Linked DNA regions of Homo sapiens. The protein of the gene in region 1 purifies or fractionates together with the protein of each later gene. This does not show direct contact. Each region holds a gene or a part of one and is shown on either strand. Other genes may lie near its edges.

Region 1 (7,040 bases):
ACTGCAGCAAGCCTTTGTAAGACCATCCCACACCTGTCCCACATCCACTGGATGCATCTAGGTCTCATACAGCACTAGAAACTTTGTCTGGCAATGCACCATGATAATTATTTCATCATGCATGTTCTGGACCAAGCTCAGTGTGCTTCTGAAACACGACTCAGCAGTCTCCCTGCTTACCTGTGGAGAGGTGACGCTACAATCCAGCAGGTGGATAGTTCTACCATCCTGCATTATGGCTTGGAGCTAAGAGGGGATCCAGGACAGTTTGGTGGGTCCTCTAGGCCTCCACCAAGAAACATTGGTTAAAAGCATCTAAGGGAGAAAGGCCCCAGCCACAGGGAAGGTGGCATCTACTTGTGCTGTCCTACTTGGTTACTTTCACACTTCCAACTTACATAGAAGACTCTGAATCTCACTTAAGTCTGTACTCTACCAAGTGAAGAAAGACCATCAAGACAAAAGGAAGTCAAAGTAAAGTTCTCTCACTGTTAAGACTCAGTGAGAGAAGGACAAGAAAGACACCTCCTCACTAAGGCTGTGGGAGGTAAGAAACTTTCCCAAAACAAAGAGAAGAATCATATTTGAATCTTTATTTGCATGACACCGGAGTTTATTCTCTCTCCTGTATATACACACTACTAAGAGAATCTGTCCTTCTGAAGTTGGGTCAGACTGCTTTTTTGTGTAGCAAGCCAGAATTCACTTATTTTCTGAGTCATCTGTAAGATGACATTTTCTCCTAGGTCCAGTAAAGATAAGGCACAACCTAGTGACCAGAGCATGAGATATAAGGTCTGGCGCCAATTCTTTAAGCACGTGGGCCAGTTATAGCCCATCAGTGTCTCCAATTTGACATGAAGATGACAATTTAACCAAGGACTACCAAGTGGATTACTGTTTATTCAATGTGTTGGATAAGACACTTGGAATTAAGATGAAAAGCTGCATCAACCGCAAGGAAGAAAAATCTGGAGTACCTGGTCAGCCCAGCCCTCTGTCTTGCAGTTACTATGATCAAATTCCTTCAAAGGCACTTTGGAGTGAACAAGGCCTATGTGGGTCTGGAGCTTGTGCTTGACGGTTTTGATGTCCTAGTGAGGCAGAGACAGATCAGAAATGCAAATACATTTGGTTAATTCTTACTTGTTTTCAGTAGTAAATAAAGACCATCATAAATACCAGCCCTTTCTAAATACCAATTAGCACAGGCAAAATATCAAATTGTTGAGTCTAGAAAAATGAGAGAAGGAACCAAAAGTCTTACCTTGAGCCCTGTCCCAGAGATATCTAAGCAGTTTAGTTTCCTAAAAGAAAAGAGGTATCCAATGCCTGCATCTGTGATCTCAGGGTTACCTAGATGTCAAAAACAACGTAGCATTCTGTCACAATATAAATGCTGTTAAAATGACAACCAAAAATAAGCTCAGAAAAACGTCCGGGCAATGATAAACTATAAAACATTTGAGTTGGCAAACTTTTCAAAGTAAATTAAATACAGAGGTCTGATCTTTACTATTTGTAATATAAAAGAGCCACACTCAATGATCCCTAAAGATCCTTTACAGCTCTTACTTTCTAGGAGTTGGGGGTGAGCAGAAAAATAAATGAACCAGGTAGTTATCCCAAAGGGTTTAATTTGGAACCATATGAAAACATACATAAACATGTATTACAATGGTTTATCATACTTTATTCATGGCCATTTCACCTCCAAAGTAAAAGCATTTATTTATTTTAAAAAGATATTCAAGGGAACTTAGACACAGATACTATCACCACTCTTACCAACTTGCATTATTTTCAGAATCCTTTCTTATATATTACTTTCTCACGTCAGAGAGTACTACACTTAGCATTGAGTCCTCAAGGCCATAAGCGTAGTGCCTGGCACATTGTAGATGCTCAAAAAATATTTGTTGAATGAATACACTTCCCTGGGAGGTAGGGAGGACATTCATTATTTCTTTTTTTTTTTTGAGACAGAGTCTTGCTCTGTCACCCAGGCTGGAGTGAGTGACGCAATCTTGGCTCACTTGCAAGCTCCGCCTCCCGGATTCACGCCATTCTCCTGCCTCAGCCTCCCGAGTAGCTGGGACTACAGGTGCCGGCCACCACGCCCAGCTGATTTTTTGTATCTTTTTAGTAGAGACGGGGTTTCACTGTGTTAGCCAGGATGGTCTTGATCTCCTGACCTCGTGATCTGCCCGCCTCGGCCTCCCAAAGTGCTGGGATTACAGGCGTGAGCCACCGCGCCCAGCCAGGACATTCATTATTATCCTCATTTTACAAAGGCCAAAACCAATGCTCAAAGTGGTTAAATAACTGGTCTGAAGGTATATAACTGGTAGTAAAAGTGGTAGACCAAGAAGGGTCCTCAGACCTCAAACCACTGCTCTTTCTATTCTTTTGGCATCATACTGTCCTGCCATAGAGTCAATGGATGCTCGGTTAAATTGTAAATGATCTCTGTCAACCTCTTACCATTGGAGTCAATATCTGGTTAATCTGAGTAAATTATCCGTTCATCCAGCTTTTCATCAGGCAAACACTGATAAAAAAGGACCTAGCTGACAGACACCAAGGATCAGAGACTCAAGGAAAATAAAGATGAGTCAAATGTCCTTTAAGTATGCAATGAATATGATGAAAGGTGTCTCTGTTTGCACACAGCGAGTGGCATGGATGAATGTGTAAGGGTTTTTCCTACCCTAAAGAGGTGGTATGTGCTAGAAAAATCAGTTGGCCAGGAGTCAAGAGTCTTTGGCCTCAATCCTGTTCTGCCACCAAGTTTCTATGGCACCGAGGAAAGTCACCTTTCCTTTCTCACCTCTAAAATGAAGAGGAAGAACTACATGATCTCTAAGGCCATTCTTCCAACATTAAAATAATCTATAATTTCGAAGAAAACTTACATGATAAGTCTAATAATGTTAGATTCTCAAGGCCTCTTTTCATCACTCGAACTGGTGCTGTCATCTTCCGCACCCCAGCATCAGATAAACAATTATCCTTCAGGTGGAGCTGAGTTACACTAGGGAAACAAAGTACATACATAAATTACTCAAAGAGAGTTTGAGACAATCTAGGTATAAAAACATGCTTTCAACATTTTCATTTAAAAATATAACATATCCTCTACCTCTTGCTATTTCATACCCAATGCATTTAACAAAGTTAAGCTCTTTTGGGCTGGGCATGGTGGCTCATGCTTGTAATGTCAGCACTTTGGAAGACTGAGGCTGGAGGATCACTTGGGCCCAGGAGTTAGAGACCCCATCCCTGCAAGAAATTTTAAAAAATTAGCTAGCCAAGGTGCTGTGTGCCTGTGGTCCCAGCTACTTGGGAGGCTGAGGCAGGAAGATGGCTTCAACCAAGGATTTCAAAGCTGCAGTGAGCTATGATTGCACCACTGCACTCCAGCCTAGGTGACAGAACATGACCCTGCCTAACAAAAAAAAAAAAAAAAAGATTTTTTGGTGCCATTTCAGTTACCAAGTGAGAGTTAATTTAGTGTCATGCAGTACTAATTTCAGAGGGCAGAGGGCACTAAAGGTATATTGTTGAATGAGGTAAATGGACTTCCACTAGGGGATAAATATACTTTAAAACAAAAGCTGCTTTTCTGACAAATGGTGTGAAAATCAAAAACATTCTAACTATGTCAGGAAAGTCTGCTAAAGAACTCCTATGAGAATTATTTTTGCAAAGCAAACAATCCTCTAAATTTAACCAGCTTTATCAATCTAGATTTTCAGTTTGGGTTAATAAGGTATACCCATAATCCAATCCATCTGATGCTAAGCTGGAATTGGTATATTAATATGCTCCGTTTTCACATAAGAAATCTGAGCCTTGATGCTGGCTAGCCTCACACAACAGCATCTTTTTATGGGGCAGTAGGTAGGTGTCACTGTCAGAAGCAGGCCTCAGGTAGTAGGTTAGACCTAGGTTTGTAATGCTGTTGTTCTTCTGGGTGTTTATAAAACCACAGAGGGATCCATCTGTCCTCCTCTTTGCTGGCCAGAATAACCTGAGATCAGTCAGACTATTTGTGAATGGTATGAACTGGGCCATTTCTTTAAATCATGACTCCTGAAAAGAATTTCTTTGGCTGTCTTTAATAGTTCATTTTCTTTATAATTGTAGCTCATTGATAGTTAAAGTAGCAAACGATAATGATTGTTGACTATGGTATAATGTCTCATCCCTTGCTAGAATAAACTAGGACTGGATAAATAAAGGGCAAAACCCAAGGTGGGTGGATCACCTGAGGTCAGAAGTTCGAGACCAACCTGGCCAACATGGCAAAACCCCCGTCTCTACTAAAAGTACAAAAATTAGCCGGCGTGGTGGGGGGCGCCTATAATCCCAGCTATCAGGAGGCTGAGGCATGAGAATAGCTTGAACCTGGAGGTGGAGGTTGCAGTGGGCCAAGATCACGCCACTGCACTCCAGCCTGGACAACAAGAGCAAGACTCCGTCTAAAGAAATAAATAAATAGGGCCAGGCGCAGTGGCTGACGCCTGTAATCCCAGCACTTTGGGAGGCTGAGGCGGGAGGATCACCTGAGGTCAGGACCTCGAGACCAGCCTGACCAACACGGAGAAACCCCGTCTCTACTAAAAATACAAAATTAGCTGGGCGTGGTGGTGCATGCCTGTAATCCCAGCTACTTGGGAGGCTGACGCAGGAGAATTGCTTGAACCTGGGAGGTGGAGGTTGCGGTGAGCTGAGATCGTGCCATTGCACTCCAGCCTGGGTGGCAAAAACGAAACTTTTGTCTCCAAAAAAAATAAAAATAAAAATAAATAAATAAGGGGCAAAACCACTTTTTAACCTACGTAGCTTCAAGTATTACATATTAAAATAAAAGTTACTTAGAAAAAAAGAGTCAACTAACTGACTTGAGTCAACTGACTGACTTTCTAAGGGTTGTCTAATCTATATTGCTTATACCAAGTAAATGGAGATTGAAAATGTTTTAGGAAAAAAAAGCAAATCAACATAAGAATGGGAAGTAATCAGCATTCCTGAAGATAATCCTGTTGGATCAGCCTTTAAAACAATACTGAAACAATTCATCTGCAAGTGGTGACAGGTCAGTACCTAGACAGGGCTTCATTGGTGAGATGTTCTAGAAGTTCATGCTCATCTCCAAGCTTGCAACAGGAAAGATCCAGGCAGGTCAGCTCCCGGAAAGACTTAATCTCCTCAAGCTTTTCTGAAATCACGAGATACCTACGGAGCGTGGAGAGCAATCAATAGCTTCCCCTCACTACTCTTAAAGCATTACCATTTGTGGATTTGTATCATAGTCAATATCCTACCATCCCATCAGGACACAGTACTATGGAATAAGCAGACTTCACTAATTACTATCAGGGCAAAGGCTGAATTTTTTAATTAGTAAATGCCTTGAACATCTTTTTATGTGATGGTAGAATAAAAATTTTGAATAAATAAATAAATAAATAAATAAATGTATATTAGCAAAGGAAAGTCACAAGTGAAACACCTGCTTTGTTATCAGGCAGACCTTGGCATTGGTGTTGGGACCTTACCTGAGAATTTCCAAACTTTAGGATACTCGAATTTTTAATTACTAATTCTTTTAAAGTTGCTTTTAATCTAATGCTCAACATCCAGTGATTTGAAAACTGGAGCAAGGTCAAGAACTCTCGTTTCCAATCTGCATGTCCCCAAGAACATACCAAGAGATATTTGGCACATCACATTTTATCTTTCCTGAACACTCCCCTGTGCCTGTTATCCTAACTTTACTCCAAAAGTATGTACAGCAAGACTGCTACAAGGACTCACTCCAGTCTAGATGGATATTAAGACAAACCCTGAGCACGAGCAACTTAATTACATTGCAGCACCTTGCCAAGTTGTTATCAGGAAGCATCAGGGAAGCCTCTGGAGAGGGAAAGGAGATCAAAACAGCATTCCACAGCCCAGGCTGGGGCCTCCACCCTGCTTTCTAGTGGTTCATCTATCTCAGATGAGGTCAGTGAGAAAAAATGAAAGGGATTAGGTGTGACAGGAAATGGAGAGGAGAGGAACCTAAGAGGACAGGGAAACTGACTTGTGGCAAGAGCAGGCCTCTCTCATCCACCTTCCTCTTGAATGTCTGGAAGTTTCCACAGCAAGATGGTGTGTTAGGATCAGTGGGGTTACACCTAAAAGAGTACATACCTCTCTTCCATCAGCAGGATCACAACTGCCAAAAACAGGATGGAATAATCAGAGGGCAAGAGAGGAGTTAATCTCTTTTCTTCCTACTTCCAACCAAAAAAAGATGTACTCAAACTAATCACCAGCCTGACAGCTAGGTACAGATGGTCTGAGGCACTGATACCCCCTTAAAGGGTGGAACCTAAGGTGCCTGGAGACCGAGCTCAGCTGGGTACACAAAAGAGCCTTATTTACTCAGATGTATTTTAATTGCATTGTAAATAAAGCTGCTGTTTTCCACCTTCCAATCACAGAGTTGAAGTGTGTTAATGGGGATTTAGAGGATTACTGGCAATCAGAGAAAGGAAAACACATATACTTTGATCAATTAACCAAAAGATTTTTAGTAATTCTGAAACAAGGGTTCTCTGCAAAGGACATAACACTGTGTAATGTGATTAAGAAACATTACGAAACTCAAGGTTGAGGAACAAACATGTTAGGCCACAGACATTACTAGGTGCTAATCTAGGACATAATCAAAGCTCTAGGTTCTTGCTTGCAACCAGTCTTCCAAATTTTCCCTTAAAGGGTTCGGAACAGTACAGTGGAAAAGCAATAGAAAGAGCACAGACCAGACCTGAGTTTGGATTCTAACAGCCCAATTACTTGTGTGATTGTGAGACAGTTACTTAACCTTTCTGAGCCTCAATTTCTCCAGCTACAAAATGGGGCTACAAAATTCTTTTCAGGATGATTAAGAAAAAGAGAAACAATATTTTAAAATTCCATGGCATCTTGCAAGACCTCATGAAATAGTAGCTATTACTATTATGTCAACAACAAAAAGTGATATTTTA
Region 2 (8,689 bases), on another chromosome or scaffold:
AAAAGTATCAATTCCTACCTCCATTATCTTTTAGATGTAGTGCTATCTTGGTATCATCTGGAAGAGAAATTCAAAGTTACTATAACAGAAAAGGATTGATTTCAAAGGAGCATAAATCTTATGACTAGTAATTGTCTACTAACTGCCTTGGTCGGAACATGACTAGATTTTGATAATTTATTGTGGTAATTTCTAGTGCAATGAGAGCAAGTCCTTGCTTTACATGATGTAGTTCTAAAATTTCCTACAGAGATTGTAATGTCAAGATTTTGGTAACATCTTGAATGATCCTTAAGTTCTACAAGAAAAGTAAGCAGTAATAATTAAAAGTTAAAATACAGCTATTTTTAATTCTCTAAAATCACTTATTGTAATTAGAACCTATAGTTATGACCTTATTTATTCATTTTAAAAAATCAAGATCAAGGAAAATCCAAATTCATTGTGACAGTTAAGATTTGTCAATATTTACAAATTTAACTCCAAAAGTTAAATGTTTACCCATTGCTAGAAAAGATGACCAAAATTCTATATAAAGAGATCTTATCCTGACTGAACAAAATGTAGGATATGCTTTTTTATTTTACTGGTTATGTTTCACTCTAAAGGGTAGGGTTTAAATTATAGGAATATTTTCGTGGACTTTAATATAATAATCCAAAATAATATGGATTAAAAGATAATGTTGCTTTTAAAAGCAGTAAAATGCACTTAGCAGCTGCTTTCCACCCCACTTTATTCCAGTTCACCTTATAATATCAAATTAAATTCCAATTAAAAGTTCCATATTTAATTTTTTATTCAAGCCAAAGAAAGTGAGGCTTATAACAATAAACAAGTAAGACCCATTTATCCCCCTCAAACCTGATTCGTGGCCAGTCTTATGTTTCTGCCCTCTCCCTCCTGGTGGTATCATTCAGAATAGAAAATTATCGTATGTTGGGTAATACACTTTCTTCCTCCTGAGCTGTGCCCAAGCATTAACACTCTCTAGTATTTCTGCCTACCTTAGAAGAGGAAATAGTTGTTTTCAAGGACAATTTCTATGACACATACAGTGTTTCTGTATAGGTTATAGACCAATATATTTTATTGACTGCATTCTGGAAAACATTAGAATTATATATTAATAGAATTATTTATTGTTCAGAATCCAGAATCAACGGACATTTTATATGCATTTTGCCTTTCTAACCTGTGATTGTGAAGTTGGATTTGCTTAGTACAAAATTTAGCCACACAGGAAGAAATCTGTATTTCTTTTCTAGGAAGGAGAGGACAAGAAGCCAGAATCAATGGTAAAAGCTATGTCTTAAAAAAAGGCACAGTGCATTAAAAGAATCCCAGCATTTACTTTTAGTTCATAATAATTTTGTCTTTTTCCCCTTTGGAAATCCCTTAGAAATCCAGTTTGCCAAAGAATAACTTTAGAGAGACCTAGAGAGTAGGAGCTATTCCAGTACATGTCAACACAGTGATTTTTCCTTCCTTCAGGGAAAAAAAAAAAAAAAAAAAAAAAAAAAAGCAAACTATCTCTTGGGTACCTTCTGTAGGGAGGCTGGTGGGAAACTGAGAAGTCACTGCTCTTCTGGTGGTAGTTAGGACCCTGAACTGGGTGGTTGTCGCTCCTACGGTTGTGGTGGTTCGAGAAGAAGTTTCCACTGGTTCTGTATTCTCACACATCTTCTCTTTTGACTAGTAAGAGAAAAGAAAAGGAAAACAAATGGAGTGATCACAAATCTATTTTTAGAACTTACATCAAAGAAGCTGGGCTGTAAAGCACAAAAGCCTCTCATATCAAGACAAGGAATAAATTACTTTTGTACAAGACTATATTAATGATTTTGCTAATTTATGAAGTTTATAAAATAGGAAAGAGAAAAAGATGGATGGAACAAGGCATTTCCCTTTTTAGATATTTAGGTTTCATCATTTACTGCTGTTAAGCTTTCATATTACTGTTTACCTTGCCCTAAATTTTACATTGGTATATTTATAAAAGACACACTGTCAAAAGGGAAAATTTATACTAGAAGAAAAACAGGTGCATAAAGATAAGGTTTAAAACATACTCAGGTTTGTGGAGAAAAAGTGCATTCCTTTCGTATCAAACTGACAATGCTAAATCCGAAATATTTGCTAACTTCCCCATACTACTTCATTGTTTCAAAAATCATCTGTCACAAGTTGAATGAATGTCTAAAATTTTGTTTTCCTTTATGAAATATTCAAAACCACATAAGCAAAGGATTGAACAGAACTCTTGTAATCACTCAGCCTATTTTCCTCCTTAGCAGAGCTATATTGAAAACATCAGGAAATGAGACATAGTGAATTTTTTATTTTTAATTTGTGAAAACAAATCCTACAACCTTCACTGGTAACAACCTCCAACATCCAAACTTTTATAGCTTAGAAGTTGGTGTTTCTATCCACCTTTTGTGCCGCAGTGGACTCCCTCTCTCAGGTGGGCCTTGAGTAGAAAATAACTATTCTGGACATGAGTGGTTCTCATCCCACATTTTAAAATTATTGTTAAATAAATATCATTCTTAAACTTCTCTCATCATTAGTGGAGCGCTAGGTGCCTTTCCCCTTGTTAATGCAGACTTCCTGAGACAGCCTCCTTTTCATTAATAGGATATGAAACAGGTTTATTCTCCACTTCAAGTCTAAACATACTAGGGTCTCATTTAATTCCCCAAATTCCAGTTCCTGCACCTCTGAGCCCCATTAATCTAATTATTTCCTTTCAGATACCACTTTAGTTGTCATCCCCACACCCTGGACTATATCTGTAGTGGAAAATGTTTTAGATCTGAAATCATAAGCTCAGTTATCCTTTTTCCATCTATCCCTGTACCTGCGAACTCCAATTCTTCTTATTCTTTGACTACTTAGAAAGCCTAAGAAAATGATTTTGTTTTTAAGTTTCTTTTTCCCCCATTACTTCAACCACTCATTTCAGTAGCTTCAAGCATCTTGCTCTATTTTTTTATTTTTTTTTTTTTTTAGTTTTTTTTTCTACAACACCTTTAAAGAAAAGATCTGCCTTTTCCCTGCCTGCTCCAAAGCCAGGCACAGCTGGAGAATAATCACACAGACCCGCCATGGGGGCTCCACAAACATCTCCTGCATCCTTAGCAGGGCCGTGCATACCACTTGGCAGCATTGCTGTGTCTTGCTAATCACCTCTCCCATTATGCTCAGTATGAATTTCAAGCTCTCTCCACTTTACCTAAAACTGCAATCCCATCATGATTCTCCCGGTTTTACTCCTTGGGTTCACCTTCCATTTCCTTGATAAATAGGCATGATCAGCAAGATTTCTTTAAATTTCTTAGTGAATCAGCATACTTACTTGACTCTGGGCTGACCTATTCTTTCCTTCTGTGATAATGGATGGGGACCTTTCCTTATAGCCATCCTTTCAACCTATTTCTACCTATGTCCTAGCTCAACTCAGCCCACCTTCACAGGTATTGTGAATTTGCTTAGGTGATCATAGTCCTTTCTCTACAATATTTGCCACCCCTAATTCTCTGCTGGCTTCTTATCAACAACACTTAAAGGTACACAAGCATGCCTAATCTTATTTTGCAAACCCAAATTCCAGTTTGCAAAGGGAGGCAGTCCCAGAAGAGGGACTGCCTCCCTCTTCTCCCCAATGCATCCTGACATTATACTGCTTTCCCTCCATTCATACGCAGTCATATTTCCAGAGAGATCAGTCTGCCTTGGTCTTCTCAGACTCCCAGCTTTCCCTTTTATGACAATCTTGCTCTTACCTAATCCAACTGAGTTGAAATTTCTCGTACCAATGTTTCTAAATATCTCCTTAGCTAAATATCCAACATCTTCCATGGTGTCCTACTGACACCTCATCAGCCTATGGTGCAGATGTCCACTCCCCTGTCTTGGTTTCTGTGACACACCCTCTCCTCAATGTTCTGACACCTCCCTCACAACTCCATCTCAATTTCCTTTTATTTATGTCAATTCCTTAAGTGTTGGGGTGGTTCTTATGGATCATTCTTGCTCTGTCACTTCATTCTATGCATTATCTTTTGCAATCTCTTCTACACCCATGACTGCAATGAACATCTTTATGTTGATTATTCATAAATCTATATTTCCAGTCCACATTCCTCTTTTGGATTTCAGGCCCAAAAAGTCATCTATTGACCAGGTGTCTGCATGTGAATGTCACACACATCTCAAACTCAAGGAGTATAGAATGGAACTTGCCATATATTATTCTCTCTTTGTGTTTCTACTGTCAATGAACAGGACCTAGTATTCCGTAAACAGGATCTAATAATGTTCAGTAAACACCCTACGTTTAAGGTAAAATCCTAGGCTCAGATTGCTTTTGGCAGTAACGGCAGACTAAGGAACTAAATAGCCCTCCTATAACAAAACAAGTAGATTCTGAATAAAACTTGAATTTTAAAGCCTTAGGATTTGCAGGAGGTAAAGAATATCCCAATGGTGCCTTTCCATTGTTTATTCCCCTCCCCACTCAAAAAATAAAACAAAGCAAAAGCTATGTGCTATAAAGACAGTAGGAGCTGTATACATTAAGGGAAGTTAAAAAAGCAGAATTTGCCCTGAGGAAAAAAATCCAAAATCAATATCGCTCTAAAGAGAACAAGCCTTGCAGCAGTAGTAGACAGGGGAGAAAAATCTGAACTTCTCCTCCTCACATTAGGGCAGAGACTTATGGTAGCCTGAAAATCCTGAGGATCCCATCATCAAATCTTCTTTGGGGGAAAACATCACCTATTTAGGTCTTAGAATAGGATCAGACAAATATACACTAAAAAAGAAAAAAAAATAGCTGTCTGAGAAAGAATCAGCAAAAACAATGACCACACTATTTAGATCACCAAAATTTTAGATAATGGGATCATCCAATATGGAATATACAAAAATCATACACGGAATATTTAAAATCATAAAAGATAAAATTGAGAAATGAACGGTTCACATGAAACTATAAAATACTTGGCAGATGTAATAAGTGTCAAATTTAATTTTAGATATGAAAAATGTTTGTTGGAATTTCTACTTCAGTGAGTAGATTACATAGAATATTAAACAAGATGAAGGGAGAGTTAATAAACCGGTAAATACATCTGAAGAAATTGCTCCAAATACAGCACAGAGTAATAAGGAAAGAGATTACATATAATAGAGGTTTAAAAATATGAGGAAAAGATGAAAATGGCAAGCTTTCAAAGAAGTCAGAAGGTGAAAATAAAGAGAGTGGAGAAGTATAGCTGAAGAGTACATTTATCAAGCTTGACACCCAACCAACAGGAAAACACACATTTTTCTTGAACACACATAGACCCTTTGTACAAAATGCCCATGTACTTGTTCATGAAAAATTTCCAATCAACTTTAAAGATCATAACATGTTCTCTGATGATGACTCAATTAGTCTAGAAGTCAATAGTAAAAAAGGTAAATTTTAAAAGCCTCTGTAATTAGGAAATGTGATCTAATTCATAATTTAATGTATTTCCAATAAAATGTTAGTAAGATGTATTGATAGATGGATTACAGATCTCGACAAGGTGAGTTTAATATTTATATGAAGGACAAAAGCCCTAAAATACCCAAACACTTGTGAAGAAGAAAAAGTAAGGAGATTTGTCCTGTATATAGTAAGATTTCTTATAAAACAATAGAAATTAATACAGTGGGACACTGATCTAAGTACTGACAGAGCTTTAGAAGAGGAGAGCCCAGAAAATATACATAAAACAGGTGACTTTGCAAGATATTGCCAAAAGAAAGGATTAGTTAACAAATGGTGCTTGAAATTTGGCTATCCATCAAGAAAAAAAACCCCACGAAACTGAATCTCTACCTTATATAATACATAAAAACCAATTCCAAATGGAATAGATTTTGACGTGTAAGACAAAGCTTTAAAATATTCAGAAAAAAATACACAAAAATAACACCTAGATGGAATTTGGTAGGAAAATTCTTCTAAAAGAAGATGCACAGGCATATAAAACTCATCATAAAAATAAAAGATTCATACATTTGACAGATTAAATTGATAATTAATGTTAGTGAAATAAAATCATAGAGAAAATGAAAAGATAAACCAAATTTGGGAGAAAAAATATACATCTGAATTACATTCTCAATCTTTACATATATGGAGATATTCATTTTCAACATTTTATATTGAGGTAACTGATTATATGAAAGAAATGATTGTCTCAAAACACAACTATGGCTTTGTCAATAGATACTCTTTGGAACTACGTTATTAGATAAGTGAGGTGAGACGGATGAGCACACACTGCTGTCATTCCCTAAATGAAATGCCAAAAGGTTGGTTATAGCTACACTGGCAATACTGCATTTAAAGTTCAAGAATGTTTTTAAAAATGTATTGCTCAAGATCTTTATGAAACATGCCCCCCAAAAATGAATTTTTAAAAAGTCTCTAAGTAACCATTGAACAAATAGTTTTTAAAACAGCATTTTGGCATGGCTTGCTTTGCTAAACTTTTGTAATTGTTAGCAGTTTTAATTCAAAATTGATACCCCAAAACTTAATGAAGGGAGAAGAAGTAAATGCTTTTCTTCATAAACTTTATAGGATATCTTTATATGATCTTGAAATGATAGTATAAATGCGAGTCACTGCAAAGCTTTTAAACGGGTTAAAATTGTTTCTGGTATCCAATTGCTTACACGACTTCACTGCATCCTTGTCTCTATCATGTTTCCCTCAGAGTTAACATTATACCATCTCTCTATGCCAACTAATGTTATACAATTTCTCATTTATTACAGCACATCAATTTGCTGCAGTCTTCCACCCTCCACAATACCACTGGTCTTGCTGTTTGAATTACAAAGAGGAACAATGGTTTCGTACATCCTAGAAAAATAGCAAGCATTTAAGAGAACTCCTCTACAGATTCCAATCCTGGCCCTACTATTCCCTAGCCATTTACCTGACTCTCCAAGAACCCACACTTCACCCCTCCCCACAAGCTCCCCTCACTCCTCCCCTTTCTCTCCTTGGTAATATGGGGGTAGTGACAGTGCAGGCACTGTTCTTCATAGAATGAATATGACAATGAAATGAGATAATACATATAAATAGTTAAGCCCCATGTCTGCATCTATTAGGGGTTGTAGCAAGTTGCTACAATGTAATGAAAATGTTATCTAATTTAACAAAAATAGCCAGCTGTTATCGAACCCCTAATATTTGCAGACATTGGGCTTATAGAAGGATTCTTCTCCTTTCATTAAGTTTTAGGGCATAAATTTTGAATAAAAATTATTAACAGTTAAAACACATGTATATGACAGCTTGGTCCCAGGATTCTGTCACAATAAAGCATGTGTACCTCTTCAGGGCATCCACTGTCCACCCAGTCCTGCCGATGACGATCAAATCCACTGGAACATCTTCAAAGAAGACCACAATGCAGTTCAGAAAAGGAAGGATAGGGTGCAGGGTGGTGGACAGAAATTAAAAGTAAAAGATTAGTAGGTAGTTCATTCTCACATTTTCAGTTTAGCATAACATTAACTCTTCTATAGAACTCGCAACTGGAGAAGCAGGGAAATATTTAGAGGGTTGCTAAATAATCACTCATTCCTTAGGATGTCACTGTTAGGATCGCACATGGCAACCAAATCACTGTTAAAGCAAACTGCACTGTACGGAATACCTAGATCCCTGCACAAAGATAAGACCAATCGCTCTTCTATGAAGTGGATTTTCTTTTACCTTGTATTTTTTTTCTCATCATTAAAACAAATAAATACACACTTTTTTTGCAAATATTGTATTTCATGATTTCAGGTTCATTCATTCATTCATTTTACTCATTCATTCAAGACCCACCATCACACAAACTCTTTCCCTTTTGTGCAGTAAAATGTTAACTTGGCAGTTGTGGGGTTTTCAGACCCTGCATGTTCCAAAAAAAAGACTGGCCCTTGACTTGCTCTTGAGAAGTAACCTCTAAACTCCTGGACTATCCTGCCTATTAAGAGTGTCTACCTCGGGTCTTGAGCCATGCAGATAGTTTATGCTGACAATTTGATTTATTGTGAATATGTGACTTCATTTACTTGGGACCCTGGGCCATGCTGTAACAGTTTGACCCTGGGGAGAGCTGACGACTGGAAGATAAGATTAGTCACAAGGGCATTCTATCCTGATGAATGAACCCTTAATAAAAACCCTGGAGACCAAGCTTGGGTGAGCTTCCTTGATTAGCAGTACTTGTTGTGTATTATTGCACATTGTTATTGGGGAAATTAAGTATCATCTGTGCAATTCCACTGGGAGAAGACAACTGGCAACTTGCACTGGTCTCTCCTGGATTCCACTCTACGTGCATTTCACCTTTGCTGATTTTAACTCATCTCTTTTTCCTGTGGCAACCTTGAGTATAACAGCTTTTCTGAGTTCTGCGAGTCTTTCTAGTGAATCATGGAACCCGAGTATCTTCTTGGGGACACCCAGTTGCACTAGAAATAGGTCATGTCTAAAATATCTAATTTAGCAAGCATTGTGTTAATTAGACTTTGTTCACTCATACTGTCTTCCTTGACTGGAATAATTTTCTGTCTTCCCTACGTACTCTTACACAGCCCAATAATTTTCTAAGACCCAGAAATTACTATCCAGAGC

What was found.
Region 2: the proteins of LRRC42 (region 1) and PLXDC2 purify together in Homo sapiens (affinity purification with mass spectrometry; 3 studies listed by BioGRID and IntAct, with this or other methods). This does not show direct contact.

The regions. Positions count from the first base shown.
Region 1 is NC_000001.11:53,956,350-53,963,389, reverse strand, and holds part of LRRC42 (leucine-rich repeat-containing protein 42), read right to left. Parts: intron 5,242-7,040; coding exon 5,110-5,241; intron 3,035-5,109; coding exon 2,916-3,034; intron 1,357-2,915; coding exon 1,268-1,356; intron 1,095-1,267; coding exon 981-1,094; intron 1-980.
Region 2 is NC_000010.11:20,210,432-20,219,120, reverse strand, and holds part of PLXDC2 (plexin domain-containing protein 2 isoform 1 precursor), read right to left. Parts: intron 7,453-8,689; coding exon 7,392-7,452; intron 1,696-7,391; coding exon 1,545-1,695; intron 58-1,544; coding exon 19-57; intron 1-18. UniProt on the Homo sapiens protein: May play a role in tumor angiogenesis.